4 linked regions of the Homo sapiens genome follow. The protein of the gene in region 1 purifies or fractionates together with the protein of each later gene. This does not show direct contact. Each region holds a gene or a part of one and is shown in the gene's direction. Other genes may lie near its edges.

Evidence for each region.
Region 2: the proteins of HNRNPD (region 1) and HNRNPR purify together in Homo sapiens (affinity purification with mass spectrometry; 4 studies listed by BioGRID and IntAct, with this or other methods). This does not show direct contact.
Region 3: the proteins of HNRNPD (region 1) and HNRNPF fractionate together in Homo sapiens (co-fractionation; 3 studies listed by BioGRID, with this or other methods). This does not show direct contact.
Region 4: the proteins of HNRNPD (region 1) and FAM120A purify together in Homo sapiens (affinity purification with mass spectrometry; 2 studies listed by BioGRID and IntAct, with this or other methods). This does not show direct contact.

Annotation. Positions count from the first base shown.
Region 1 is NC_000004.12:82,351,103-82,357,383, reverse strand, and holds the end of HNRNPD (heterogeneous nuclear ribonucleoprotein D0), read left to right. Parts: coding exon 1-71; intron 72-488; coding exon 489-588; intron 589-700; coding exon 701-847; intron 848-1,982; coding exon 1,983-2,050; 3' UTR 2,051-2,080; intron 2,081-3,229; 3' UTR 3,230-4,886; downstream 4,887-6,281. UniProt on the Homo sapiens protein: Binds with high affinity to RNA molecules that contain AU-rich elements (AREs) found within the 3'-UTR of many proto-oncogenes and cytokine mRNAs.
Region 2 is NC_000001.11:23,333,084-23,341,370, reverse strand, and holds part of HNRNPR (heterogeneous nuclear ribonucleoprotein R), read left to right. Parts: intron 1-350; coding exon of another isoform or gene 351-362; coding exon 363-519; intron 520-2,762; coding exon 2,763-2,881; intron 2,882-3,509; coding exon 3,510-3,617; intron 3,618-7,739; coding exon 7,740-7,853; intron 7,854-8,287. UniProt on the Homo sapiens protein: Component of ribonucleosomes, which are complexes of at least 20 other different heterogeneous nuclear ribonucleoproteins (hnRNP). hnRNP play an important role in processing of precursor mRNA in the nucleus.
Region 3 is NC_000010.11:43,398,148-43,406,434, reverse strand, and holds part of HNRNPF (heterogeneous nuclear ribonucleoprotein F), read left to right. Parts: intron 1-8,287.
Region 4 is NC_000009.12:93,454,643-93,462,929, forward strand, and holds part of FAM120A (constitutive coactivator of PPAR-gamma-like protein 1), read left to right. Parts: intron 1-8,287. UniProt on the Homo sapiens protein: Component of the oxidative stress-induced survival signaling. May regulate the activation of SRC family protein kinases. May act as a scaffolding protein enabling SRC family protein kinases to phosphorylate and activate PI3-kinase.

The DNA of each region.
Region 1 (6,281 bases):
TTACCTTTAAGGAAGAAGAACCAGTGAAGAAGATAATGGAAAAGAAATACCACAATGTTGGTCTTAGTAAAGTAAGTTAAGCATCCATTTACTTGTAGAGAAAACTAGCTGTTGTAAAGAGCTTAACCATTTATCTTTCTCTGTAAAGGCTTAAGTTCTTTGCATGCTTTAAAAACTTCTCATTGGTTACTTACCATTGACCAACTTTTTGTGGGGAGCAGGATGGACACATTTGTTAGTGTTTTTGTCTAGGCTTTCACAAAAATAGTTTTTAGAACTTGACAAGTAAAATGAAGTAACATCACTAGCAAGTACTCATAAGTGATTACTCTTAAGTACTAAATATTGGTTTAATTAATAAACTGACTGAGGAAAGTTTCAAATTAGCCTACTCTATTTAAACATGTTGGCTATTCTGGTTATTAGAAACTTATTTAGCAACTTTTATTTTCTTGAGTCAGTTTAATAATGTAATTTTTCTCTTTTAGTGTGAAATAAAAGTAGCCATGTCGAAGGAACAATATCAGCAACAGCAACAGTGGGGATCTAGAGGAGGATTTGCAGGAAGAGCTCGTGGAAGAGGTGGTGGTAAGCTAGAGCCTAAGTTTACTCTATCTTAAGCTTTTCTGCTTTTTAATTATCCTGAAGTAAAGATCTTTGCTGATCTTCTGACTTTAGTGAACCTATTAATGTGCTGCAGGCCCCAGTCAAAACTGGAACCAGGGATATAGTAACTATTGGAATCAAGGCTATGGCAACTATGGATATAACAGCCAAGGTTACGGTGGTTATGGAGGATATGACTACACTGGTTACAACAACTACTATGGATATGGTGATTATAGCAGTAAGTACTATACTTTTTATATTAACTGCTATTTGACATTTATTTTGTACAAATTTGGATAGGCAGAAAGGTTAGTGTAGCCTTGCCAAGTGCAAATGTCTTCAGGTTTCAAATTCCTGGAAACTTGAAACTGCAGCCATTTTATTGCTTGGTTCCTCCCAGCCTATATCACACACACATTATAAGGGTAGGGTGTATGTGTGGTTCTATATATGTTTGCTGGGCATTTGTTTTACTTGGATTTAAAAATTTTAAGCTCAGTTCAGATCTTTTAAGCTCAAGGTATTCTAAATGTCACTTCTTGGACCAACCAATAATCTTGGCATGATGTGTCTTAATCCTATAAAACTGAATAATACCACATGTTGCCAGTTAAAACTAATAGTATCCTCGCTTTAGGATTATTAATGTAGAAACTCTTAAAACAGATGTTGAGCTTGATAGAACCAAAAAACTTGACTTTTAGACATGGAAAGCCCTGACTTCATTGTGCAACTAAGGTAGTTGCTCTCCACCTGATTTGTAGCAACTGTTGAGTCGTCAGGTAAAGGGTTCTACTAGAAGCAATCTTACATTTTTTTGGAGGAGAGTGGTTGCATTGGTTGCATTGTTTTAAGTGGTTTTTCTTTTCCTTCCTTGGTTAGACCAGTTCTTGGAGTTATATCCTTTCTTAGGTGACTAGGCCTGCTGCACAATAATAGGTTAATTAAAGTCAGAAGAAGGTCAGCAAAGATGGATTGGGTGAGATTGGGGCCCTTTTCTTAGAAGGGCAGAGATACTAAGCACTGATTGTGGTTGACAATTTGTTCTAAATTTTAAGATATTTTTTGCTGGTGGTTGTGAAAGGGTCAGCTGTCCATCCTTTGAAACTTAAAACTTTTAAACTGTAAGGGTGAGGGGATTGTCTCCCATTTTATACAATAAGTCAAGTAATCAGCTCATTCTGAATGCCTGCCATTGTATGCATTCACTACATATTTGGTAAATTATTTGATAAATGATTGCTCAGGGTGAATTTTTCACACTTGGGAATTAAGCTACCCTTAATTTTTTGAGATTGTTTAAAATTAGGTACTGTTCTGATTATTAGTATGTAACCACTACCGTTCTGGTTCTAACACTTGTTTTATTTTAGACCAGCAGAGTGGTTATGGGAAGGTATCCAGGCGAGGTGGTCATCAAAATAGCTACAAACCATACTAAATTATTCCATTTGCAACTTATCCCCAACAGGTATGTTCTAAAAATAGTTTTTTTTTGTCATTTACAATAGTAGTTTTTATAATCTATATTGTTCATAAAACAATGCTTAATTTAAGAGTTTCACAGCACCCAGAAGTGCTTACCATATTATAACATAGTGACTTTCAAAGATATGTAACACAGGTGCTCTTAAGCTTTTGCCTTTTTGTCCTATTATTAACAAGTCAGTAAAGTTAACAGGTAAAGTACTGCTAATGGGTACAAATTAAGGAATTGCAGCAAAAAAGTATTGCCTACTAACTCTGACATTATACCTTGTTTGTACCCGCCAGCGGGAACTTCATTGCAGGCCCTGTGTCGCGCTGACTTCACGATTCTCACAGGCCCGCTCAATGCGGACAGGGTACGAGATGCTCACGCTCTCGAATGCTGCCGTTTGGTATGGTCTCTTCCAACATCCTGTATCAGCATTATAAAATAAAATGGATACTTCAAGCTTTGCCTTCACTTATTTCTTTGCTTTTTAAAAACTATTTGTAATGTAATTTTAATGCATTTTTTACAGGCCCAGTAATGGTTAAATACGTCAGCTTACTGAATAATTTTAACTATTTATTCTTCTAAGGATACAGCTTGTCTCTGGATTTTCCAGTCTTAATTTTATATTTTATTAATCTATTTTAATGCTTGCTTTTCCCATTTATAGACGTTGTAGCAGTAATTGCAAGAAGTTCTTGAGCTGAATTCCTGTTGTGACAACTTCCTATAATTACAGTAGATAACTTTTTCTTTTAGTCGTATATAACTTTTCTATAACTTGTGATGGACAAGAGATATGCTTATCCAATAAAATAAGCTTAAATATTAGATGCTCTTGGGTCAAAATGTCCTTTTACCAAATTGACCTTTTTATGAGTTCTTTGGGTAAATACTTTAAAGCTTTTTATATTTTAAAGAATACTTGTAAAAGCATATCACATCTTAAACCAGTGGTGCACATGTGGATTTACAGCTCATGGACTCTACTGTTCAGCTTTAATTTATAAAACATATCACACATTTAATGTTATACAGTATTTACATATAGTGGAACATAGGGATAACTCAGTTTTATGTAAATTTTTGTTAAGTGTTGTAGCCTGCCCAGAGTGACTTCTATTTTTTCTTCTTTGTCTCCAGGTGGTGAAGCAGTATTTTCCAATTTGAAGATTCATTTGAAGGTGGCTCCTGCCACCTGCTAATAGCAGTTCAAACTAAATTTTTTGTATCAAGTCCCTGAATGGAAGTATGACGTTGGGTCCCTCTGAAGTTTAATTCTGAGTTCTCATTAAAAGAAATTTGCTTTCATTGTTTTATTTCTTAATTGCTATGCTTCAGAATCAATTTGTGTTTTATGCCCTTTCCCCCAGTATTGTAGAGCAAGTCTTGTGTTAAAAGCCCAGTGTGACAGTGTCATGATGTAGTAGTGTCTTACTGGTTTTTTAATAAATCCTTTTGTATAAAAATGTATTGGCTCTTTTATCATCAGAATAGGAAAAATTGTCATGGATTCAAGTTATTAAAAGCATAAGTTTGGAAGACAGGCTTGCCGAAATTGAGGACATGATTAAAATTGCAGTGAAGTTTGAAATGTTTTTAGCAAAATCTAATTTTTGCCATAATGTGTCCTCCCTGTCCAAATTGGGAATGACTTAATGTCAATTTGTTTGTTGGTTGTTTTAATAATACTTCCTTATGTAGCCATTAAGATTTATATGAATATTTTCCCAAATGCCCAGTTTTTGCTTAATATGTATTGTGCTTTTTAGAACAAATCTGGATAAATGTGCAAAAGTACCCCTTTGCACAGATAGTTAATGTTTTATGCTTCCATTAAATAAAAAGGACTTAAAATCTGTTAATTATAATAGAAATGCGGCTAGTTCAGAGAGATTTTTAGAGCTGTGGTGGACTTCATAGATGAATTCAAGTGTTGAGGGAGGATTAAAGAAATATATACCGTGTTTATGTGTGTGTGCTTATTTGTTTGAATGATTTTATTTTCCATTTCTCAAAGGTTTTATTTTTTTGGTTAGGGCCTTAAAATTTCAGGACTGTGATTATTAGTATGTGTGCCTAAGGAACTTTTTGAGTCACTCTTAAGAAAGTGAAACTGAAGAGTCTAAGTGATAACTATAGGATTAAGTCAGAATTGTTTTTCCTGTCATTTGTTGGAAGCTTCTTGAGTTCTGTTATTAGCATTCAGGGAATTGATACCCATCAACTTGAATGGAAAATCGTTTGTAGGTATTACTTAAGTGAATGTTAAGAGTTCCACCCTGAGTGGTAATCTAAGGCTGTGCAGTCAGTTACTTCAGACTGCTCAGAATAGTTCATTAGAAAGGTAACAAATGAGAAATGTATTATTATACAGTTCTATAGTAGTGAAGTGATGGAATACCTTTCTTACTTTTGTGGAGTTACATCTGATGCTAAGAATTTGACCTCCAACTAAGCAAACATTTTAATGAGCAAAAGTTAGTGTTATTAAAGTTTTTTTATGATAGATCCAAATTGAGGACCTGTGTCCTGTTTTTATAAGATTGCAACCCAGCTATGCTCATTTGTTTATGTTTTGTATATGGCTGCTTTTGTGTTACAGTGGTAGAGTTTAGTAGTTAGGACAGAGACCTGCAAAGCAAAATAATTTACAGTCTGGCCCTTTACAGAAAAGTTTGCTGACTCATGGTCAAAATAAATGAAAATTTTTTGTGTTAGGGTTGTTAAGCTAGGGTTCTTTTTGGTATCATATGCTTATTTTATGTAAATCTCTCAATAAAAAATTATTTTTAAGAGACAGGGTCTCCCTCTGTCGTTCATGCTAGAGTACAGTGGCTCACTGCAGCCTCCAACTCCTGGGCTCAAGTGCTCCTCATTAGCCTCCTCAGTGATTGGGACTACAGGCGCATACCACTGTGCCCAACTAATATTTTTATTGTTTGTAGAGACAGGGTCTTGCTATGTTCCCCAGGCTGGTCTTGAACTCTTGGCCTCAAGCAATCCTCCTCCTCCTTCGGCCTCCCAAAGTGCTGGGATTATAGGCATAAACCACCGTGTTCGGCCTTCACATCAAAAACTTTATAAATGTGCGGGGAGGGGGTAAAAACAGATTGAATTAAAACCAGGTTTAGTGTGACTAAAAACATGCTACCAGATTAATTTTGATTGTTGTGTTAAAATGTTTACAAGCTGCACTTTTGGCAGTTAATTAGTACTAAATGAGAGACACTACTTAGATTTAATTTTAAGGATTAATTTTGGAGATCAAACCCATTCTTGAAAAAAACTTGTAACCCGATTTTTGTACTGTTTTGTTTCTGTATGTCTGACTCATTTAAATTGCAATTCTCAGAGCCGTTTCTAGCAGTACCTCTTGGCCTAGATAATTTTCTGTCCAGCAGACACTGATTTTCAAACGGTAACAAGAATTGAAAAAAGATTTTTTATATACATTAATTTGGTAATTAGTTTCATGTTTTTCTTGATGGTTTTCTGTGTTCTAATCTGAACTGTTTGCCCTTTTTGAATTGTTGAGTAACTGTTGAGTTGGGGCTTTGCCATTGTTCTGGGTTTCCCTTTGCCTCTCAATTTATGATCTGTTTCCTAGATCTATGGCTTTGTTGGTTTGGTGTAGGATATCTTCCAATAGGTTAGAGACCTTCCTGTCTGTAAAGTTCTATTTTGCATTGGATTACTAAGTTTAGCTATGTAGAGAATTCAGGTTTGGTGAAGAAATTTATTTTATTTGTTTTTGAGACAGCATCTCACTCTGTTGCCAGGCTGGAGTGCAGTGGTGCGATCTCAGCTCACTGCAACCTCTGCCTCGTGGGTTCAAGCGATTCTCCTGCCTCAGCCTCCTTAGCAGCTGGGACTACAGGCCTGTGCCACCATGCCCAGCTAGTTTTTGTATTTTTAGTAGAGACGGAGTTTCACCATGTTGGCCAGGATGGTCTCAATCTCTTGATGCTGTGATCCGTCCGCCTCGGCCTCCCAAAGTGCTGGGATTACAGGTGTGAGCCACCATGCCTGGCCAGAAATTTATTTATTTTTTTTATTTTTGAGACGGAGTTTTGCTTTTGTTGCCCAGGCTGTAGTGCAGTGGCATATCGGCTCACGGCAACCTCCGCCTCCTAGATTCAAGCAATTCTTCTGCCTCAGCCGCCTGAGCAGCTGGGATTACAGGTGTGTGCCA
Region 2 (8,287 bases), on another chromosome or scaffold:
GAGAGCTGAGGGGCTTTTTAGTAAAGGATTTTGTAGTGATTTTGATCTTTTCACCAGGACAGAACAGCTGCTTTTGTTAATCAGCAATTCTACCTTCAGTAAATTAAAGCCTTTATCTTACCCGGTGTACATGAAGTTCCTTAAAGATCTAATGCTTCCATGTACATTTTCTATGGTTTTACAGGATTATTATTGCCAATTTAGGTCAGATACATCACAGGAGGAATAAATTATTATTTTGATAGAGGTTATTAGCAGCATGTATACAAATTAGTTTAGATAAATCATGCATTGTCCTACAAACTAGTTATTTCTGGCTTAATGTAATATAGCTCCTGAATTTTTTCCAGCAGCATAATAAAATGGCTAATCAGGTGAATGGTAATGCGGTACAGTTAAAAGAAGAGGAAGAACCAATGGATACTTCCAGTGTAACTCACACAGAACACTACAAGACACTGATAGAGGCAGGCCTCCCACAGAAGGTGGCAGAAAGACTTGATGAAATATTTCAGACAGGTATAATATGCATTTCTTGTTTCTGACTGGTTATGAAAGTGAGGGCAAACCACTTTGAATTTTATAGTTTTTTAAGGTTAAATAATACTTATTGTTTCTGATCTGTAGAGCTGAATGTTTGTTACTTTCCCTTCATTGAAGGCATATTGGGTTTGACTTTGATACTCTTATTTCATTATTTTGAAGCCTTCTTAGTGTTGAATATGCAGTCTTAGTTGTTTCAGAACAGCACATCGATTTGTCTTAGATTTACCACCCATAAAAATGTATGTTTCTGCATACCAAATTTTACATTTTTTTCTTAATCAAAATCAGTCATCATTTTGCTTTTGCTTTTCTACTTTTACCTTCTTAAAGTGATTGTTAAATCAGCTTAGGTCTGATTAGGTGGCATAACAAGAGGATAGCTGTATCGTCTGAAACCATAATAAATGTCAGACTCCTTGAGAGTTTGTGGCTTGTCTAGTTTCTAATAGAAATCCACATCTCTCCGTAATTTGGAAGTGTTTGGTTGTAACAGCTGCTTCTTTTTTTTTTTTTTAATCCAGAAGTGCCATGGTTAAGTGCTTAAGCAAATTTGAACATCTTAATATAGTTGGTTGTAAGTGGTTTGAAGTTTTAAAGAGGGAGAGAAATATTTACCCTTAGGGAGCGTTGTTCATAAATGAATGTGTCCTCCTCCTTTGGGGACATAGATGGAAACTTTCTTCCTCTGTGTTGTGTGTGCCTATTCAGATTCTGAGAGAGAATTGAATTGTCTCACTCACAAATGTGTCTTAAGTACAGTAGTAGCAAATAGCTGTTTTTTTTTTTTTGTCCTTAAAAAATTTTTAAATCTGGGAAGCTTAGCATAATTTTAGACATTAAAATGACTTATAAAAATGACTCCTGGGTCATGGTCGCATTTGAAAATCAGTCCTCAGGAACTTTCTGTGACATTCTGCCATAGAGAATTGGCAGTGATCTGCTTAGAGATGCTCTCTTGTAGAGTGTTTTGTTATTGATAAGAGGCTGATGGTTTGGGCGTAGACTTGGTTTGACAAAATGGATTGATGGGTGTCCTGAGTTGTGGCTTCGGGTGGTGGTATGGAATATTCAAGTGAGGCAGCTCCAGTTATTTACACATGCTCATTTCGAGCTTTTGAAACAAATCATGGCAACTTTTTTAAAAAGTAACTTTGGAAGTGGCATTACATTTATTTAAAATTTACTATATGGAATAAAGTTCTTTTTAGCTTTATCAAAATGGAGTCACTTTTCATGTTCATATGAACTTGGGGGTTTTAATCTACGAAATACTTGCATTTTACGTTGGATCAATTCTGAAATATATTCCATATGTAAATATGACACAAACTTAACAGACTTAAGAAATTATATTTTAAACTTAGTAGATGTTCTGTGTGCAGTTGAATATACTTACATATATGAAATGCAGTGTATATATTTTCTGTCAAGTTTACTTGTAAGACCATAAAGTCTTTATTGCCATTTGAAAATGATTGTCGTTCTTGACAGTCAATGTGAATGCCACAGCATCTTTTAAATCTCAGCTTGTCACTTCAGAAGAACAAAGAATGCCTTAAAGTATGACTTTCAGAATTGATTAATCAAGCTGCACTTGCATTTGTAGAAGTTTAAAATTATGCCTTTCCACATTCTGACTGCAGCAAAGTGGATGCTCAGATAAACAAATGCATTTCAGTTTATCTTTGGTGTTCAGGAGGGAAAGCCTTTTGACACTTTTTGGAGAGTGGAAAGAATTACTTAGTAAAATTTGTTTTCAGATTTTCCTCCACCTCTTAGGTGGTTAGCATCAACTGTAACCGTCTGTAATTTGAAGGTTTATCCTTGGAAAACGCAATGTATTCTTATCACTCTAATATAAACCAAAATTTGTTGTATTAATGCATAATCTGTAATACAGTATGTACATCAGATTTAACTTTCAAGACTTATACCTTTGGGGGAGTGGGAAATGGATGTTAGGATTTGGCGGGGGAGGTTTGTGGATATGGAGATTGAAATTCATGTTTTTGGTTGTTGACATTTTATCTTTATTTTCATATTTGTCCTGGACCTTTCTATGTAGTATTTGGATAGCTGCGTATATGCATATAGTTAAATGAAAATACAGTTTGTTAGTGATCATATTGAATGTAACAATTCTTGATTAAACGTCAGTAGAGCTTAGATTACCCCTTTTGTTGCAATAACGTTACCCCTTTCAATTTAATTTTTAGGATTGGTAGCTTATGTCGATCTTGATGAAAGAGCAATTGATGCTCTCAGGGAATTTAATGAAGAAGGAGCTCTGTCTGTACTACAGCAGTTCAAGGAAAGTGACTTATCACATGTTCAGGTAAGGTCGTTACTCAGAAATGTCTTTGAACAATTAGTAATCTGAAATTATTTTACTATTACTTTTTTTCCTATGGAGAAGTGGTATTTTTTGTTTGTGACTACCTCTTCTTTTAAAAAATTAGTTTAAAGGAAAAAAACTGCTTGTGGCAGAGTTTCAGAAGCCCAAGTATAAAGCAAAAGTTTTCTCCCACCCCCTTGTGCAGTAAGTTATTTTAAAAACTTAAAATTAAAGCCAAGTTTTGATGGTTGTTACTATAGGTTTTTACATGTTACTCAGCTTTTTAACATTTGGGGGTTATTTGATCCTGTTTTATTATCTTGGAGGAAAATGTAGGTGGGAGGAATAGTTTCCGACATCTGGCAAAGACAGTCTAGATACAGTCACATATCAACAAGTGGAAGACTGTGTTTTCCCAGGGTAGAAGGTAAGCTCCCTGAGGTCTATACTGCCTTACTGCTGTCTGCTCCAATCTCTGGCACATAGTAACCACTCGGCAAATACTTGTTGAATGAATCAGTAAATCTTTTGTTAAAATCCTGGTTTTCTGAAATTTAAATTTAATTATGTATCTGACCCTTCAGATATTTTTGGTGATTCTTTTTATTGAATTACTTGTCTGTTCTAGAACAAAAGTGCATTTTTATGTGGAGTTATGAAGACCTACAGGCAGAGAGAGAAACAGGGGAGCAAGGTGCAAGAGTCCACAAAGGGACCTGATGAAGCGAAGATCAAGGTAAAACTTGACTTGGGTAGTTGTAATGAAATTGCATTTAATGATGAGGTCAAATGCCTCTTTCCATGTTTCCTAGAAAGTTTCACTTTTTTTTTTTTTGAGACGGAGTCTTGCTCTGTCGCCCAGGCTGGAGTAGCGGCGCAGTCTTGGATCACTGCAAGCTCCACCTCCCAAGTTCATGCCATTCTCCTGCCTCAGCCTCCCAAGTAGCTGGGATTACAGCCATGCACCACCACACCCAGCTAATTATTTGTATTTTTAGGAAAGATAGGGTTTCACTGTGTTGGCCAGATTGGTCTCGATCTCCTGACCTTGTGATCCGCCCACCTCGGCCTTCAAAGTGCTGGGATTACAGACGTGAGCCACCACGCCCAGCTGAAAGTTTCACTTTTCAAAACTAGTGTTTAGAAATGAAATAATTTAGAGGAATTACATAAGAAGGATAATTTTGGGGATCGACACTCAATTGCATGTTTAATGAAAAGCCCTAATTCATACTCTTCCTCATTCCCTCTTTTGTGGCCATGAATGACGTATATTTATTGATGCTTCGCTGGTAGTTTCTTGGATTGATCCAGTAATGTCTCTTGGTTCAGTTATTTTCCAGCCACTTTGTTTCTTTTCTCTTGATAAAAAGGTTATAACTTGATAAAAAGTTGTTATAACTGCTTTCCTCCTTTTGAATATTCAGTTACCTCAGTTTCTTTATTTATAAAATGGGGATAGTAATAGTGACTACCTTACAGAGTTATTGTAAGGAGTAAATGAATTAACATATATAAAGCACTTAGAATAATGCCTGGAATGTAGCAAGAACTATATAACCATGAACCATTATTATTATTACCATTTTATTACTTAGATAAACAGCTTTGAAAAGGTAAATATACAGCTTTTAATGAAAGACCAGTGAACCTAATTCCTTAGTTAAATGGATACTCGTGTCTTGCTGTAGTGACATACTTTTCTTTTTTTTTTTTTTTTTTGAGACAGAGTCTCACTCTGTGGCCCAGGCTGGAGTGCTGGAGTGCAGTAGCGCCATCTCAGCTCATCTCAGCTCACTTCAACCTCTGTCTCCTGGGTTCAAGCGATTCTCCTGCCTCAGCCTCCTGAGTAGCTGGGACTACAGGCGTGCGCCACCACATCCAGCTAATTTTTTTTTTTTTTTTTTTTTTTTTTTTTGAGACGGAGTCTCCCTCTGTCGCCCAGGCTGGAGTGCAGTGGCGCGATCTCAGCTCATTGCAAGGTCTGCCTCCTGGGTTCACGCCATTCTCCTGCCTCAGCCTCCTGAGCAGCTGGGACCACAGGTGCCTGCTACCATGCCCGGCTAATTTTTTTTTTCTTGTATTTTTAGTAGAGACAGGGTTTCACTATGTTAGCCAGGATGGTCTCAATCTCCTGACCTCATGATCCGCCCGCCTCGGCCTCCCAAAGTGCTGGGATTACAGGCGTGAGCCACCGTGCCTGGCTGCTAATTTTTTTTGTTTTTTGGTAGAGTCGGGGTTTCACTGTGTTAGCCAGGCTGGTCTCAAACTCCTGACCTTGGGGGATCTGCCTACCTCACCCTCCCCAAAGTGCTGGGATTACAGGTGTGAGCCACCATATCCGGCCTGTGATAGACTTTTTTTTTTTTTTTTGAGACGGAGTCTCGCTCTGTCGCCCAGGCTGGAGTGCAGTGGCGGGATCTCGGCTCACTGCAAGCTCCGCCTCCCGGGTTCACGCCATTCTCCTCCCTCAGCCTCCCGAGTAGCTGGGACTACAGGCGCCCGCCACTACGCCCGGCTAATTTTTTGTATTTTTAGTAGAGACGGGGTTTCACCATTTTAGCCGGGATGGTCTCGATCTCCTGACCTCGTGATCCGCCCGCCTCAGCCTCCCAAAGTGCTGGGATTACAGGCGTGAGCCACCGCGCCCGGCTGTGATAGACTTTTTAATTAGAAATAGTTATTGTATGTTGAAGTTATTTCTATTATTATTACATTGTAATATGTAATGAAATAATTATACAACTCACCATAATGTAGAATCAGTGGGATCCCTGAGCTTGTTTTCCTGCAACTAGATGGTGCCATCTGGGCATACTGGTAGATGGTGACAGATCTTCAAGCATTAGATTCTCATAAGGAGCATGCAACCTAGATCCCTTGTATGCACACTTCACAATAGGATTCACCCTCCTGTGAGAACCTAATGCGGCTGCTGATCTGACAGGAGGTGGAGCTCACAGCTCAGGCAGTAATGCCAATGATAGGGAGGATGAGGAGCGGCTGTAAATACAGATGAAGCTTTGTTCTCACTTGCCCGCTATTTACCTCCTGCTATGCAGCCCGGTTCCTAACAGGCCATGGACCAGTACGGGTCTGTGGCCCAGGGGTGTGGGGACCCCTGTTTTATATTACATTTATGGCTCTGTTTCAGTCAAAGGTAGAAGAATGGAAGGCCGAAGGCATGCATCCCTGTGAAATCCTAGTGTTCACTGAACTTGATGATATCTAAAGTCTCTTATTGTTCTGACATTGTGTAATTTTAAAAACCTGGCTGGGCTCTGTGGCTCACGCCTGTAATCCCAGCACTTTGGGAGGCTGAGGCGGGTGGATCACGAGGTCAGGAGATCGAGACCATCCTGGCTAACAACGGTGAGGCCACCTGTCTACTAAAAATACAAAAAATTAGCCGGGTGTGGTGGCAGGCGCCTGTAGTCCCAGCTACTTGGGAGGCTGAGGCAGGAGAATGGCGTGAACCCGGGAGGCGGAGCTTGCAGTGAGCCAAGATCGCGCCACTGCACTCCAGCCTGAGCGACAGAGCGAGACTCCGTCTCAAAAAAAAAAAACCAAAAAAACTGAAGTGTAAATTTCTCTTTTCTAGGTAGATTGTGTTTCTTTGTTTACCATTGTATCTTTTCTTCTCTAAGCTCTTTATATAGATGTTGCCTCAATTATAACATAAATTCCTGAGAGCAAGGAGATTATCTTCTTTTCTATGATTGCTCTTAATACCTAATAGAATGTAAGGAAGGTTGGTAATCAGGAAACACAAGATTTTACTTATTTTTCGGAACCTGACTATACTTATTTGGTAATTGCCAAATATTTTTAGTCTGTACTGTATGATTCTTGTCTGATTACCTGATTCTTGTGGAGCTTATGATATGGCAGGAGTACAAACCAGAAGGATCAAACAAAATCAAGCTTAAATGATGGAACTTTAAGTACACTAGAGGCTGGGTATGGTGGCTCATTCCTGTAATCCCAGCACTTTGGGAGGCCAAGTCGGGTGGATCACGAGATCAGGAGATTGAGACCATCCTGGCTAACACGGTGAAACCCTGTCTTTACTAAAAATACAAAAAATTAGCCGGGCGTTGTGGCGGGTGCCTGTAGTCCCAGCTGCTCGGGAGGCTGAGGCAGGAAAAGGGCGTGAACCTGGGAGGCGGAGCTTGCAGTGAGCCGAGATCGCGCTACTGCACTCCAGCCTGGGTGACACAGCGAGACTCCGTCTCAAAAAAAAAAAAAAAAAAAAGTACACTAGAAAGACAGTGGGGGCTGGGCACAGTGGCTCACACCTGTACTCCTAGCACTTTGGGAGGCCAAGACAGGCGGATCTCATGAGGCCAGGAGTTCCTGACCAGCCTGGCCAACATGGTGAAACCCCATCTCTACTAAAAATACAAAAATTAGCTGGGCGTGGTGGCACATGCCTGTAATCCCAGCTACTTGGGAGGCTGAGACAAGAGAATCTCTTAGACCCGGGAGGCAGAGGTTGCAGTGAGCCGAGACGATGCCACTGCACTCCAGCCTGGGCAACAGAGCAAGACTCCATCTCAAAAAAAAAGAAGAAAAGACAGTAGGGAGAAATGGATGTGAGTAATAGTAAATGAGAGAAGCTGCATGAAGGAGGTAAGACTTGTGCTAATTTTTTTAAGGATAGAGAACATTTTATTTGAAAAGACTCACCAGTAGAAACATGTATGGGGAACCAGTGCGAATTTTGACTTTTTTTTTTACCTAACCATAAAAATATATCTCCTAGGAAGTTGGAGTCCTTTTTGGAAAAGATTAATACACTGATGCTTGTGTGTGAGATTTAGTACTCAAGTATAAAGAGATGTATAATTATCTCTAGGCCTTGCTTGAGAGAACTGGTTATACTCTGGATGTAACCACAGGACAGAGGAAGTATGGTGGTCCTCCACCAGACAGTGTGTACTCTGGCGTGCAACCTGGAATTGGAACGGAGGTAAGTGTTCTTTAGCAGTTTACCAAGATCTTTCCAGTTTGGAAAGTGTTTTATCTACTATGCAGATACTGTACAGACGGGGGAAAATTCTTGATCCCTTTCAAAGTGTAGCTGTTGTTAGTTTTTAGATATCCATTTGTATTTTGCTGCCATCATGAGGATGGATAATCTTGTGACTGGTAGATACCCGAACACTTTATATAGGAATATAATATAGAGTTTTTGGAACAGGTTGCTAAAACCATGCTACTAGCAGCACACCATTTTAGATACTTGGAGTAAAGTTATTTGGAAGACGCAATTGCTTTATTCTGTCTTTTTTTTTCCCCTCCCCTGAGATGGAGTTTCGCTCTTGTTGTCCAGGCTGGAGTGCAGTGACACGGTCTCAGCAAACTGCAACCTCGGCCTCCTGGGTTCAAGTGATTCTCCTGCCT
Region 3 (8,287 bases), on another chromosome or scaffold:
GGCGTGAGCCATCGTGCCCGGCCACTTTTTTGTAAACTGCCAAGTTTTCTGTTAAGGGTAGCGTTATAAAGCTTTATTCAGGTAAAAAATGGAATTTATTTAAGGGAAAAGACTGAGTAAATAGAAAGTTACTTCTCCCACGTGGCCAGAACCTTGGAAAGCCTGGAGGCAAATGAGAGCCCGGTGGGGGTAGATGCCTGCAGGGGCTGCAGAAATGTGACAGGCCCTTTCCTTGGAGGTGACTTCTCTAATTCCCTCTCCCCCACTGAGCTCTGGTTCTCTGCTCTTCGGGAGAACCACATTAGTTGACTCTTACTAGGTCCTAGAAGTTTTACTCCATTTTCTAATTACATGCTCAGGACTACTCCAGAAGGGCTTGCTATTAGCCCCATGTTTCAGATGAGAAAATGGAGGTTGGGAGAAGTCATGTGTCCAGGGACACAATTGGGACTTGGGACCCAGTCCCAACTGGGTCCCAAGTTGGACCGGGACACCCCTCCCCTGCCAGGGCCCTTGCCCTGTCTTAGTTGCCCTGAGCTACGGTTCTTGTGGAGGGCAACAGGGTGGGCAGAGGGAGAACTGAGCTCAGCCAAGACCGCCCTGGCTTATTTTACAGCAAATCCCAGACCAATAAGGTCTTTATTAATAAATAAATCCGCAGTATTTCTAAGAACTTTTAAAACCTAACCATGATACTGCTGTCATGCCTAAAAATACATTCCAAAATATCAAGTATCCAGGGTTTAAGTGTTTCTGTATTAAATTTTTTTTTTTTTCCGAGACGGAATCTTGCTCTTGTCACCCAGGCTGGAGTGCAGTGGCACAATCTCAGCTCACTGCAAACTCCATCTCCCGGGTTAATGCCATTCTCCTGCCTCAGCCTCCCGAGTTGCTGGGACTACAGGCGGCCGCCACCATGCCCGGCTAATTTTTTGTATTTTTAGTAGAGGCGGGGTTTCATCATGTTAGCAGGGATGGTCTCGATCTCCTGACCTCGTGATCCGCCGGCCTCGGCCTCCCAAAGTGCTGGGATTACAGGCGTGAGCCACCGCGCCCGGCATGTATTAAATATTTTAAACAGCTGGTTGGTTTGAGTCAGGATCCAAAGTCACACCTTATATTTTGTAGATAACTTTTTAAATTCAGAGCAGCACTGTCCAATAGAAATATAATGTATGCTATAAATGTAATCTTATATTCTTTAGTGGTAAAAGGAAACATGATTCATTGTATTAATAATTTAACCTAATATATATCCACTACTATTTTGCATGTAATTTTAAAACACTTTTTCATTTCTCCATGATCTTGACTAAAATAATTAAAAACAAAATCCTGTGAACTTGTCAAAATCCAGTGTGAGTTTTACACTTACACATTTCAAGCGTGGTGAATGGATGCTGTGTAAGTGATCATCTAGAGGTTCCCCTTTCTTAAAAGGCTCCATCCCCCGTTATATTTGTCGGGCTGTCTTGCAGCATTCCTTCCCCACACTTCGCATTTTTCTGATTGTTTTTCCGTGGTGGTCTTTGAGTGTCTGTTCTTTATATTTCCTGTAAAGTGATAGTTACCTCTAGAGGTAGTTTTTGGTTTTGGTTTTATTTTTGTTTTTGAGACGGAGTTTTGGTTTTGTTGCCCAGGCTGGAGTGCAATGGTGTGATCTTGTCTCACTGCCTCCTGGGTTCAAGCAATTCTCTTGCCTCAGCCTCCTGAGTAACTGGGATTACAGGGGTATTTTTAGTAGAGACGGAGTATCAACTTGTTGGTCAGGCTGGTCTCAACCTCCTGACCTCAGGTGATCCACCCGCCTCAGCCTCCCAAAGTGCTGGGATTACTGGTGTGAGCCACCGCACCCAGTCTGGAGGTAGTTTTGATTCAGATGAGAGTTTTTGGAAAGAAAACTTACTTGAGGTGCTGTGCTCCAACCGGAGGCACATATTGGTTGGTATCTTCTCTTTTGTCATGTTACAGCAGCTATTAATGATCATTATGTAGATCCATTATTTTCTTAAATGGTTTTCAAATTAGTGATATTTTAATAATCGATTCCTTTTCATTTATTAGCAGGAATACTTTTTCATGTGATCGCTCTAAGATGTACTTTTGTTTTTGTTTTCCTTTTTTTTTTTTTTTATAGACGGATTCTCACTCTGTCACCCAGGCTGGAGTGCAGTGGCAGGATCCAGGCTCACTGCAGCCTCCGCCTCCTGGGTTCAGGCGATTCTCAGGCTCGTGAGCAGCTGGGATTACAGGTGTGCAGCACCACCACGCCCATCTAATAGTAGAGATGGTGGAGTGGCAGGGGGTGGGGGGTTTCACCATGTTGGCCAGGCTGGTCTCAAACTCCTGACCTCAAGTGATCCACCTGCCTTGGCCTCCCAAAGTGCTGGGATTACAGGCGTGAGTCACCCACCACGCCCAGCCCTCCACATTTTTTTTTTTCGAGAAAGGGTTTCACTTTGATGCCCACACTGGAGTGCCCTGGTGTGGACAGAGCTCACTGCAGCCTCAACCTCCTGGGCTCAGGCAATCCTGCCTCATCCCCCCAAGTAGCTGGGATTACAGGTGTGTGCCACATGCCCAGCTATTTTTTTTTGTATTTTTTGTAGAGAAGGGGTTTTGCCATGTCGCCCAGGGTGGTCTCCTGAGCTCAAGTGATCTGCCCACCTCGGCCTCCCAAAGTGCTGGGATTACAGGTGTGAGCCACTATATATGGCCTCAGTTCTTCCTTGACATAAATTCAGCTTAGCATTTCTCATAAAACATTAAAAAAGTACCTCTATACTTTGTCTCCATTGATACATCAGTATGAGAAATTGCAGTGATTGAGTTTGAAATGATCAACTACACTTGCATTCCTGAAATCCAACTTGGTCATAATATCGCTTTATATATTGCTGGATTAGGTTGACTGATACTTGGTTTGGACTTTTGCATCTGAGTTCTTGAGTGAAATTAGCCTGTGATACTTGATTAATTGTAAAACTCTTTTGGAAATGAAAAAATCAATTCCAAGTTCATTGTAGATGTAAGTGTAAAAATTTAGAGAAGAACATCAACGCTTTGTAAGTTCAGATAACTATATGGGCTGGGGCTAGGAAAAAGATCTCTTGAAAATGACACAGGCTGGGCGGGGTGGTTCACACCTTTAATCCCAGCAGGGCCAAGGCAGGCGGATTGCTTGAGGCCAGGAGTCCAAGACCAGCCTGGCCAATGTGGCGAAACCCCATCTCTACTAAAAATACAAAAATTTGCCAGGTGTGGTGGTGTGCATCTGTAATCCCAGGCTGAGGCAGGAGAATTGCTTGAACTCAGGAGGTGGAGGTTGCAGTGAACCGAGAGTGGAATGATGGTTTGAGCTCAGGAGTTCAAGATAAGCCTGGGCAAGATGGCAAGACCCTATCTTTTCAAAAACAGAATTTTTAATTAGCCAGGTATGATAGCGAACACTTGTAAAGACATAGAGGATGCAGTGAGTTGTGATTGCAGTACTGCATACCACCCTGAGCAAGAAAGCAAGACCCCGTTTAAAAAAAAAAAGCCATCATAATTAAGAAAAGGCATGACAGATTAAGACTCCTATTAGATTTATCCTAACGGTATGCCTCCTGTTAGACAAAATGCTTCACCTAATACAAATACAGATACTCTTACTTACTGTTATATCCCGATAAATCCATCATAAGTTATTTGATTAGAATAGTGCCATCTAATAGAATTATGATGTTTATGACAAATACATATCTTTTCTAATTTAAGTTGGTGTTAGATACCATATACGATCCTCTTAAAGTACATAGAATTCAGAAGTTAGTTTTCTTGTGATGTTTTTGTCTGGTTTGGTAACACGTTGTATTAGTATGCTAGGGCTGCCATGCAAAGTAATACAGACTAGTAACAAATTTTCTCACGGTTATGGAGGCTAGAAGTCTTAAGATGAGGGTGTTGATAGGGTTGGTTTCTTTTCAGGCAGGAGAAATAATGTGAATAGTAGGAATTCCAGAAGGAGAAAAAGACACAGATGGAGGCAGCAAGAGAAGCGATAAAGGATTAGAAGTGAATTTTCCTGGCTTAAGATCCCTGTAGTTCCCATTAGGATATTTTGAAAAGACACAGCACAGGCGTGTGTTGGTAAAACTCCTAAAGTATAGAGGAAACTGCTTTGGAAAAAGTATGTCCTCCAAATCTCTTATCTTCTCCCCCATTGTTTCTGTTTTGATGTTTATTCTACTTCGTTTTCCTTTCTTTGAATTCATTACTAACTTTTAAATTTAAAACTCAGTTTTAGTTCCAGAAAGTTTTTTTTTTTAAGTTTTGTAATGGAGTGGTATCTGAAGTTGCTCTTTTTTTCCTGTTAAAATCATTATGGTTTTTGTCTAGCACTTCTTGTTCCCTGAAACCTGAGGTGTGGTATGTTATTTCTGGGTGCCGGAGCCCCTCTTCTGTAAATTGTCATGTTCCTTTCCTCCTTCCATCTCTCTGTTCTGCACAATTCCCCCAAGGCAGAATGCAGTGGTCCCCTGGGCAGCACAGCTCAGGGCCAGCAGTCTCAGCTCAGGGCCTGCTGCTTGGAACCTGACTAAGGTGTCATGTTTCCATGGAGGCTTCAGGAAGAATTCCCATCCCAAGGAATGTACCTTCCTCAGGGGGCTGAGGATACCCCACAGGCCTCCTTTCTCTCCAGCTCCAGGGTTTGACTATGCACCTATTTAGGGGCTGCTTGCTCAAGGGAGAGAGGTACAGGAGGTGGTCTGGGAAAAACAAAATTGATCTTCCTATCAATTGTATTTTTGTTTAGCGGAATCTATACACACCCATTTCTTTGGATATTATTTCCAGTTACTCCAGCTAATCCAAATAATGATATTTGCCCTCAGTTAAGAACAGATTTTATTTTTAGGAACAGAAGTCTAGTAGCAGTTTTGCTTTTTATTAACGTTTTAAGGAACATTTACCTTAGATATCATGATTCTTGGGCATTTGCAAAATGCAGTCAATATCAAACAGCAATGGTTGCTTGTTTTATGATCGGTCAGAATTTGTCCCTTATATTAATTTCAGTACAAACAGTATAGATAAAATTTATCTAACATTACATTATACTACTCTTGATGCTTTTTAGTAACACAGCTTTTGAGAAATGAACGCTGAGGGAAGCAGTGTGTTATCCCCCCAGACTTAGCTACAGCAAGTAAGTGAAAGGACCTGATAGATGGTAATGGAAAACAGCTTTCCTGTTGCATGCAGATCAGGACAGATCCCCTTTGGTGGATATAAATGTAGTAATAATGGAGTAAACATTTAAAATGTTAATATATGCTCCATCTGCAGCTTCTCAGTCTTTTTTTTTTTTGAGACGGAGTCTCGCTCTATCGCCCAGGCTGGAGTGCAGTGGTGCGATCTGGGCTCCCTGCAAGTTCCGCCTCCCGGGTTCACACCATTCTCCTGCCTCAGCCTCCTGAGTAGCTGGGACTACAGGTGCCTGCCACCACGTTTGGCTAATTTTTGTATTTTTAGTAGAGACGAGGTTTCACCGTATTAGCCCTCCTGACCTCGTGATCCACCCGCCTCGGCCTCCCAAAGTGCTGGGATTACAGGCATGAGCCACTGTGCCTGGCCACTTCTCAGTCCTTAATAGCTTTTAGGATAGCTCTGTGTATTGAATTTGGCACGTTGTGTGAATTGGGTTAGAATTCTCACACTTCAGATACATGTGCCCCTGAAAAGTTAAGTACAAATGTGTGCGTTGGTGCATTTTTTTAAATGGAATTAGTGTCTTGTATCATAATTCTTGAGTTCATGACAGCAGGAAGTACTTAAGAGTGACTGAATAGGAATTTTATAAAATTGCTGGGTTGGAAGATACTTTTGAGGCCATTAAACCCAATTTTCAATATTTCCAACAGAAAAGGAAAACATCCATAACAAATATGGTCTATGATCTGCTCACATACTATATACCATGATGGGGAATTTTTGCCCCCAAGATGCATCTTGTGCTTCTCATGTGGTGAACAGACACGAGCAGCAGAAGCTGTGTCCTAAAATTTCTTCAATCTAAAGGATTCACCACGAAATAAGAATATGAATACAAAGCATCCAGCACCAAAATGTATCCCAGTAAAGGGCTTTGGTAAAAAATATAAATAATTTGAACAAGTGTCCAGAGGGGAGATAATGTACAGAAGGAAAAAAGAATAATGGGCTTTTAACTTCTTTTTTTTCCCTCAGTTTTTATCTTTTTCCTATATAGAGATGGGAGTCTCACTATACTGCGCAGGCTGGTCTCGAACTCTCTTGGGCTCAAGTGATCCTCCCACCTCGGCCTCCCAAAGTGCTGGAGTTACAGGCTTGAGCCACTGCTCCTGGCCAGCTTCTACTTTAAACCTCAGCTATTTATCAAGGAAAAAAGAATTTCCCTTCTTTCTACATGAAATTCATCACTCAGTGTTCCCACTCACCCATGCTCCTGTCTGTTTAAATGTCACTTCCTCAGAACCCCAATCTGAGCTAATGCCTATTTTCTGTTTTTCGTTCATTCTAAAATTTGTCATCATATATTTGTACATTTCTTGATTTCCTACTCCACTGTTACTGGACCCACCAAGGCAGGAACTGTGTCTCTTTACCACTACAGTTCCTGTATCTTTTAGGTGCGTAGTATTTCTTGGTGAGTCAGTCAGTCTCCAGACTCAGTCATTTTTCTCTACATTACACATTCTTTCACATTCTTCTCCCACCAGTCTTCCTAGACTTGTTTCATTCCTTCCCATCTTGTCTCCATGTATCTCTTCCCACCATTCATTTTCCAGATAGCATCTAGACTGTTGTGTTAAAAAGCAAAACTCCTTTCACACCACATTCCATTAAATGCCTTCCCACTGGCCTTTGAACACCAAACCAGGCCTTTAAGGCTATGTCATCTCCTACCATTGATCTCAGACCTAGCTGCAGTTGCACAATACAACCCCTGGCTCAAGTCTTCTGCACACATTGTTCCCTCACAGGCAGGAACCCTATGGTGACTGATCAATAATTAAAACTTGCCTTGGGCCAGGCACAGTGGCTTATACCTATAATCCTAGCACTTTGGGAGGCCAAGGTGGATCAGTTGAGCCCAGGAGTTACAGACCAGTCTGGGCATCATAGAGAGACCTTGCCTCTACTAAAAAATTAAAAAAAAAATTAGCCCGGCTTGGTGGCATGCACCTGTGGTCCCAGCTACGTTGGGGAGGCTAAAGGTGGGAGGATCATTTGAGCCCAGGAGGTTGAGGCTAATGTGCCTGTCACACAGATTCAACAGTTACTAATCATGGACAGTTATTCTCCATCTCCCCACCTACTACTTTGTGGACAACTTCAAACAAATCCAAGCCATCACAAATATTTCAAGATGGATTTCTAAAACTTAATTGCTTTATTTTATAACATAACCATAATTCTGTGGGTTCTTTTATCTGGCTGGAACTATTCTGAGGTAGGACTGGCTCATTTGTCCTTGTAGTTTCCCACAGTCTACATCACTATATGCAGTATGTTACTGTTCCCTGTAATTCGTGTTATTTAGTAAGTGCATTCTAAAGACTTGCTTTCTCTCAGTTTTACAAACAGTTGTATTAGCCGGGTGTGGTTGCATGCCAGTGGTCCCAGCTACTCAGGAGGCTGAGGTTGGAGGCTTGCTTGAGCCTGGGAGGTTGAGGCTGCATTGCCATGATCGTGCCACTGCATTCCAGCCTGGGCAGCTGAGCCAGACCCTGTCTCAAAATAATAATAATTCTGTTAAAAACGTAAAACAGGCCGGGCGCGGTGGCTCACACCTGTAATCCCAGCACTTTGAGAGGCTGAAGTGGGTGGATCACAAGGTCAGGAGTTGAGACCAGCCTGACCAACATGGTGAAACCCTGTCTCTACTAAAAATACAAAAATTAGCCAGGGTGTGGTAGCGCACGCCTATAATCCCAGCTACTCAGGAGGTTGAGGCCAGGAGAATCGCTTGAACCTGGGAGGGGAGGTTGCAGTGAGCCGAGATCGTGCCATTGCACTCCAGCCCGGGCAACAGAGCAAGACTGTCTCTCAAAAAAAAAAAAAAACAACAACAACAAACTCCAAACAGGCCGGGCATGGGGCTCGCACCTATAATCCCAGTACTTTGGGAGGCCGAGGCAGGGGGATCACGAGGTCAAGATATCGAGACCAGCCTAGCCAACACGGTGAAACCACATCTCTACTAAAAACAAAAACTAGCTGGGTATAGTGGCATGGGCCTATAGTCCCAGCTACTCGGGAG
Region 4 (8,287 bases), on another chromosome or scaffold:
AATTCTGGGGCTATTTTAAGAAAAGGAAAACAACCCTATGTACTTCCTTGGTCCCTGAGGGTAGTACAATGTTTATTCTATAAGGATGATTTTGAGTCATAAAAATTAATATTCAGCATTCTCTGTTTAAGGGATTGAAACAGTGTATACCATTTAATAAAAGATACCCATAAAGTGGTTAAAACGTTTAAAACCATGATATCACTACATGCCTATTAGAATGGCTAAAAGAGAAAAAAATATGAGCAATACCAAGTGCTAGCAAGAATGCTGAGCAACTGGATCCTTACACATTGCTTGTGGGAATGCAGAATGGCACCACCACTCCAGAAAACAGTGGCACTTTCTTATAAAGTTAAACATACATTTATCATACGATCCAGCAATTCCACTCCTGGGTATTTTCCTAATGAAGACTTTTGTTTGTGCAAAAACTGGTACTCAAATGTCCATAGCAGCTTAATTCATAATAGCCCAAACGTGGAAACAAAGTATCCTTTAATAAGTGAATGGTTAAACTACAGTATAGCCATACTATGGAATACTACTTAGCAATAATAAGGAAGGAATTGCTGGTGTAGGTAACAACTTGCATGAATATTTAATTAAGGTTTTATACTGAGTGAAAGAAGCCAGGTTCAAAAGGGATGATTATAAAACTATAGTGATAGGGACCAATTCAGTGGTGCTGAGAGTAGAGGAGGGGAAGGATGTACACATAAAGGGGACAGCAGGAGAGATCTTTGTGGAGTGATGGAACTGTTCTGTATTCTGATGGTGGTGATGCTACCATACATTAAAATCAGAACTATTCATCCAAAGTAAATGTGTTAATTTTATCATATGATAATTTTTTTAAGATTAAGTAAAAACCACTGGCAAAGGAATTGACATGAACAATTCAGTATATATAATGTTGAGTAAATGAGACATTTATAAAAACTTTAAGCATCTTATTGGTGCTTTCTAGTGTTTTGTAAATTGGCAGAGGGGCATAATTTCCTGTTACCTTTGCTTAGAGAAATCTTTTTTTTTTTTGAGATGGAGTCTCACTCTGTCTCTCAGGCTGGAGTGCAGTGGCGCGATCTCGGCTCACTGCAACCTCCACCTCCTGGGTTCAAGCGATTCTCCTACCTCAGCCTCCCTAGTAGCTGGGATTATAGGCGCCTGCCATCATGCCTGGCTAATCTTTGTATTTTTAGTAGAGGCGGGGTTTCACCATCTTGGCCAGGCTGGTCTTGAGCTCCTGACCTCGTGATCCACCTGCCTCGGCCTCCCAAAGTGCTGGGATTACGGGCGTGAGCCACTGCGCCTGGCCAGGAGAAATCTTTTTTGATTTAGAGATTATTTCTTTTACAGAGTAGTAATTGTATTTTTTTGTTCAGTAGTAGTAATTGTATTTCTTTAACCATTAGAAGTTGGTCTACATGGAAAGACAGCCAGAACAATGAAAATAATAATACTTTGGCCTATGTATTGACTAGTTTTGTGTAGGTCCTAAAATAGCCTAATTTGAACTTGGCTTTAGCTAGTTACTTGGACAGTGTTTCTTCTTGTGTGCCTTGGGTCATTATAACCTTTGAAACTTCAGTGAATGACTTATGTTTATTTTAAAATCTTAGTGGCATGAAGTCACTGGAGCTTTCATAAATGTTTCTGCTATATGACTTGTGGTATCAGTGTAAGGGTTTATAATAAAGTCCTTCAGATCTTCTGAATTTGCTTCCATTGGAATTTTGTTAAATAATGCTCTTACATAAAATGGCGTTCATGCTATAAGTCAGTGGAAGAATGTGAGGTTAGACTATGGTTTAGAATTTTCATGGTTAGCATAATTACATGTTTGTATTTAGAGATGATGGTCTCCCTTCATGTATACTTGATGGGGGAAGAGAATGAACTGGTATCAGACCAGGTGCTTGCTAGATCCTTTCTCACATATTCCATCTCATTTAATCCTCAGAGTGCTTTGTTACCCCATTTTTCATGTGTAAAAACAGGATCTAGTGATTAAGTGACATCTGGGGACAAGTCATTAGTAACCTCAAGACGGAAGTGGAGTGCTAAAGTCAAAGTTCAGCTTCTTTGTGTAAGAATACTTTGTGGGTGTGCCTACCTACAATTCTCACCCCCAGGTCAATTACGATAGCTAACTGCTTCAGCTATGTTTTCTAGTTAGGATAGGAACAGTCATGTTGCTATTCAGAAGAAAAATGTCCATCAGTAGATCCTGGACACTGACAGTACATCTTATTCTTAAGGACCTTTAATTGACTGGAAGATTTTTAAGGTTCAAAACTGACCATATTATACCTCAAACTAGTCACTGTATATATTTCTCTGTTGTACTACTTTTGTCACTAGTTTAATTCACATAGCATAATGTCTTCAAGCTTCTTTCATGTTGTAGATTGTGTCAGAATTTCCTTAACTTTTAAGGCTAAGTAATACTCCACTGTGTATATGTACCACATTTTGTTTATCCATTCATCCACTGGTGGATACTTGGGTTGCTTCCACTTTTTGACTATTGGGAATAATGAATAATGCTTCTATGAGCATAGTATACAAAGAGCTGTTCGAGTTCCTGCTTTCAGTTCTTTTGGGTATATACTCAGAAGTAGGATTGCTGGGTCATATGGTAATTCTGTTTTTCTTTTTAAGGAATGGCCATATATTTTCCACAGTGGCTGTGTAGGCCATATATTTTATGTCATAAGTTATATAATATATATTATTATAATATAGTTCCATTTTTTCACATTAATGTGATTGCACTATACGTTATTCAGCAGTTTGCTTTTTTATTTGTAAGAAATCTTTCCATGTCTATACTTAGAGCTCTAAGTCTTTTCAGTCCCTAAATAGTATTCCATAATTTATCCAACCCCGACAGATGGTATACACATGATATATACACACAGTAGAGCTAAAGGTATGCACATTTTAAAAGCCACGTAGGACCATAGAGTCAACATTACCAGAACTTCAGACTTTGCAAGAAAGCCAGAAACCCAGATTTTTAAAAAAATTATTCCATTTTAAAAATGCCAAGCGAAGGAAAACTTGGTTCTAAGTTAGCTTCAGCTCTTGTGCCACCAATTTGTTATTTGAGCACTGATCTTTATCAACAATTATCATGGTCATCTAAATCTCTTCCTTTTTTTTTTTTTTACTTTAAAATTAAACCTATCAAAAACCACTCTGTCTTTTCCTGTCTGCCTCCTTGAACCTTTTTCAATGATCAAAATGCTTCCATTTCCTGGGGTTACTGCAATATGATGTTTCCTTAAATGCCACAATCCTCTTGGCCACTTCCATAGTATATTCTTCATTATATACTTCTCAATATTACATATTTTGAGGTGAGTGCTAACCCACATGTTTATTTGACATCTCACCATTTCCAAGGCACAGCCTCACTGTCCTCAAACACTTCAGCACCTGGTTTTACATTCTTATATATTATTTATACTGTGTCCCATCAACACAGACACTGACTCTTCACCTCTCTCATCTGGCATCCTGATTCTGCAACTGGAGTGAATTTCTAATTGCACTTTAGATACTCCAGAGCTTGGACCGTATAATTAGTGAGAAAAGTGACCCCACCTTTAACACTTCTGAACGCTGTGTCCCTGTCACTCCTTGCCGCTCCCACCGTCTGTCCCCTGCTTGCCTTCCGCCATTTCTCTTTTCCCATTCTGTTGGCTTCCTTTTTAGCTGTAACTAGCTTGAACTTCATGATCATTCACTTCAGAGTTACACCCTCTACCACCATAGAGTCATGCTTGGTATTCCAGCATCCCATCCTCCCAGTCCCTAGAATAATGACACACCAGGCCAATTCTGGCTCAGTAGTCTCCTACTTAACTGTTATACTCTTCCTTTTTTCCAGTACCCCCAACATTTGAATTCACCATATTTATCCAAAAGGTCGAAGAAATGCTTTGCAAACCCTTCAGTGGGTTGTGAAACCAAATTATTGGATGTTTGCCATTACTTAAAAATAACGGAGTAAAATAGAATGAAAAATAGAATGCAAGGCATATACTATAGGTAAATTCCATGTCATTACACTTTTGTATTACTGTGGGTAGCAGTAAGAATGGCCTCTGCACCTACCCCCGCGCCCCAGTGGAACTAATCTTGCACAGCTTTGGCAGGGTAGACGGCCACATCTTCAGGGAGGTCACTCTCCTGTTGGGACTTGAACAAAACCATTAAGTCCAAATTCCTTATTCAGACTTGTAGACCTTCCTGCGACCTGAACTCATTTGACCTTACTTAATGTTTCACAATCCCTCTACTGTACTTTTTAAAATGTTCCCAACCCAACTGGTCACTATTTCCCCAAGAAATATCCAGTTTCTGCTTATGTCATTCCCTCTTGTTTAACTACTGTACTGTGTCCTACTTTTGCTCATCAAAATTTTACTTACACTTCAAAGCCCATGTCAAATGCCAGCCTTCTTCATGGAATCTCTTGATATTTGAAAAAGTGGACTGGGAATACACACACAGCATGGTGTATGTTTGCAGTGGACATTCTAGTCTGTTGTATTGCACCTACCTGCATAACTGCATATTTACCTCCCCCAGCCACCCGTAGGCTCCTTGAGGCCAGGGACTGTTTTACTCCTCTTGTACCCCATTATGCTTAGCATAGGCACTCAACTCTAATCAGAATATTTGCTGCATTCCATTATATAGCCAGACAAATTAAATTATTTCAAAATCTGGATCAATGGCCATTACTTAAGTTTTGTTTTGTTTTTTTAATCTTAAATTTCTCATACTCTCTTTTCTGACTGGTTCCCAATGGTGATTGATTCTCCTTTCAGCAAATGTTTGAGCACCTGTTAATGCCCAGGCCTGGAGGAGTGAACAGAACAGGAAAGGAAGGAAACCTTCAGGGAGCCTATAGCCTCTGGGTTGAGGAGGTTCATTTAAATCCTTTTTTTCTTGTTTGGAACTTTCTTTAATACTGTAGAACAATATGTTTACTCAGTGAAGACCTGTGAGTGGCTCTCAAGTAGGGTTGACAGTTGAGACATTTGGCAGGGGACATTTGGCAGTGCCTGGAGGCATTTTTGGTTGTCACAGCTGGGGGAGGATGTTAACTGAAGGCATCTATTGGGTGGAGGCCAAGGATGCTGCCAAACATTCTACAGTGCACAGAACAGCCCCCATAGCAAAGAATAATGTGGCCTAAAATACCAGTAGTGCCAAGGTAAGGAAATCTTGGTATGAGCAAATCAAAGAATTATAAGCTTTATGCCTTTGTAAAGTCATATAAATGTTTGCGATAGAGATGTCCAAGTACACCAGGAAGAAAGTAATCAAAACTACAACTTAATTTTCTGAATCAAAATACACGCAGGTATACTTCCTCCTATGTCTAACATGTTTAGATCGACATTGTTCTTCATTTTAGTTTTCTGAAATTTATATGAATAGGAAGAAACTAATTAACACATATTACACATTCCAACCTTAATAAGCACTACACCATAGGAATAAATGTCAAATATCGCGTAACATGAAGAAGAGAGATTTTAGGATTTGAAAACTTAGACTACTTTCCAGTAGATTTATAGGCAGAATTTTCTAAATAAAACAGGCATTTAAATGAATCACAGTTCAGATAAAAATATTCTTAAATTATCTAAATGTCTCCATATAGTTCATCGTTTATTTCCTTTTCGCTTTTTTTTGAGATGAAGTCTCACTCTGTTGCCCAACCTGGAGTGCAGTGACACAATCTCAGCTGACTGCAACCTCCACCTCCCAGGTTCAAGTGATTGTCCTGCCTCAGCCTCCCAAGTAGCTGGGATTACAGGCACGCCATGCCCAGCTAATTTTTGTATTTTTAGTAGAGACAGGGTTTCACTATGTTGGCCAGGCTGGTCTCGGACTCCTGACCTCGTGATCCACCCGCCCTGGCCTCCCAAAGTGCTGGGATTACAGGCATTAGCCACTATGCCTGGCCCTATTTTTGCTTATTTTTATGTTTTCTCTAGAAGTAAATCTGATGAAGACCTTGCCTGTTATCCAGCTCTTAGAGCGATGCTTGGTGTGTAGTACATGCTCAGAAAATATTTGATAAATGGATATGAATCACCAGTTACAGGCAAGGAAGTGTGATGGCAGAAAGATGGTAGGAAGCAGAAGTTTTAAAGTCCCCCTAGAGTTAATTCCAAAATCACTGGTGTCAGCTTGGCCACCTGGTGCAGAGCTTTTATCTTTGAGTAAACCTTTTATGCTTCTTAACTTAGGAGATGTGTTGAGGGCATAAAATGGGTGACTGCTTCAGGAAATGGGCTGCATTTAGCCACCTTTCCTCTTGTTACACCTGGCTTTATCACACATTGTTTCTAGGCATCTTAGGGGACAGTGTAAAAGAGTTGAACTTGACCCACTGCAGTATTTGTAGAGGTGATGGTCAATCTGCATTATGGAGTTTAGGATCTGTGATTTAGAAACGGTACTTTTATGCGCCAGTCATTTGGCATTTCTCAGTTGTCTCTGGAATCAATTAACTTTCTTGAAAGGATGAATTTACCATGTTGGTGTTTTACTGGTTAGTGCAGGAAAGTATACTAGAGGGTTTATTGCTGGAGGGTTGACTTCACAGGTCTGAAGTACATCATTCATCCTCTGAGGTAGAGCACATTTATGAATAGTAGTAACAAGCCAGCCCAGACTGTTGGAGGGGGTCACTAGACTCCATGGATGAGGTGTTTTAATTTCCTGGACCTATGAAGAGTTTGCAAGTGTTACTATCTTGAAATAAATAGTATCAACCTGTGGTTCTTTTTCCTAAATTATGAAAATTGAAATTTTATGTTTTAGATTTTGGAATGGTATTTTAATAAGAATGATATTACTAGGATTTAGCTGAGTCATTAGATTACTAGAGTAGGCTAAATAGATTCTGAATACAAATAATGTGTGTGTTTCTTCCTTTTATCATTGTATTTTTTTATTTTTAAAGTTTGTAAAGTTTAATTTGCATTTCTTTTATGACATCACTCCTTTATTATTATTAATATTTTTAGAGGGAAAAATCAAGCAGTTTTATAATTCGAACATCCCAAATCTGAAATGCTCCAAAATTCAAAACTTTTTGAGCACCAGCATGATGCACAAAGGAAATGCTCACTGGAGCATTTTGGATTTTTGATTTTTGAATTTAGAATGTTCAACTGGTAAGCATAATAACAAATATTCCAAAACTTGAAAAAGCCTGAAATCCAAAACACTTCTTGTCTTAAGTGTTTCAGTAAAGGACACCTAACCTGTATTATTGAATAACCATTGAACCAGACTGTGATCACATCACAAGCAGTGTGTGCTAAAGAGATTGCGAAAGCCAAAAAGAAGTGTCACCCTTTGATACAGCCTGGCAGATACAAACTATTACATACATCCTAATTGTCGTTAATCAAAGGAAAAGGAAAACTCTGCCTTTTTACAAGTAGGAAGTTAATTTTGGAGCCAAAGCACCTAGGCCTTCTGAGAAGACAGGGAGATACCCTTCTTTTTATTATTATTGTTTCTTAAAATTGTGGTAAAATACACCTAACATAAAATTTACCAATTTAACCATTTTTAAATGTACAGTTCAGTGGCATTAAGTATATATATTTTTTTGAGATGGAGTCTCGCTCTGTCACCAAGGCTGTAGCGCAGTAGCGTGATCTCAGCCCACTGCAACCTCTGCCTCCCGGGTGCAAGCAGTTCTGCCTCAGCCTCCTGAGTAGCTGGGATTACAGGCGTGCGCCTGCCACCACACCCAGCTAATTTTTGTATTTTTAGTAGAGACAGGGTTTCACCATCTTGGCCAGGCTGGTCTTGAACTCCTGACCTCAAGTGACCCACCACCCTTGGCCTCCCAAAGTACTGAGATTATAGGTGTGAGCCACCACGCCTGTCCCCGGTGGCATTAAGTATATTCACATTGTTGTATAACCATCACCACCATCCATTCCCAGAATTTTTTCCTCATCCCAAACTGGAACTGTGTACCCACTAAACTGTAATTCCCCATTTCTTCCATGCCCCAGCTCCTGGTAACCACCATTCTCCTCTCTGTCTCTGAAGTTGTCTACCCTATGAGCCTCATATAATGAGATCGTATAGTATATGTAATTTTGTGTCTGGTTTATTGCATTTAACACAATGTCTTCAAGGTTCATACATGTTGTAACGTGTCAGAATTTCCTCCTTAAGGCTCAATAACATTCTGTTGTATTGGATAGACCACATTTTGTTTATCCATTCA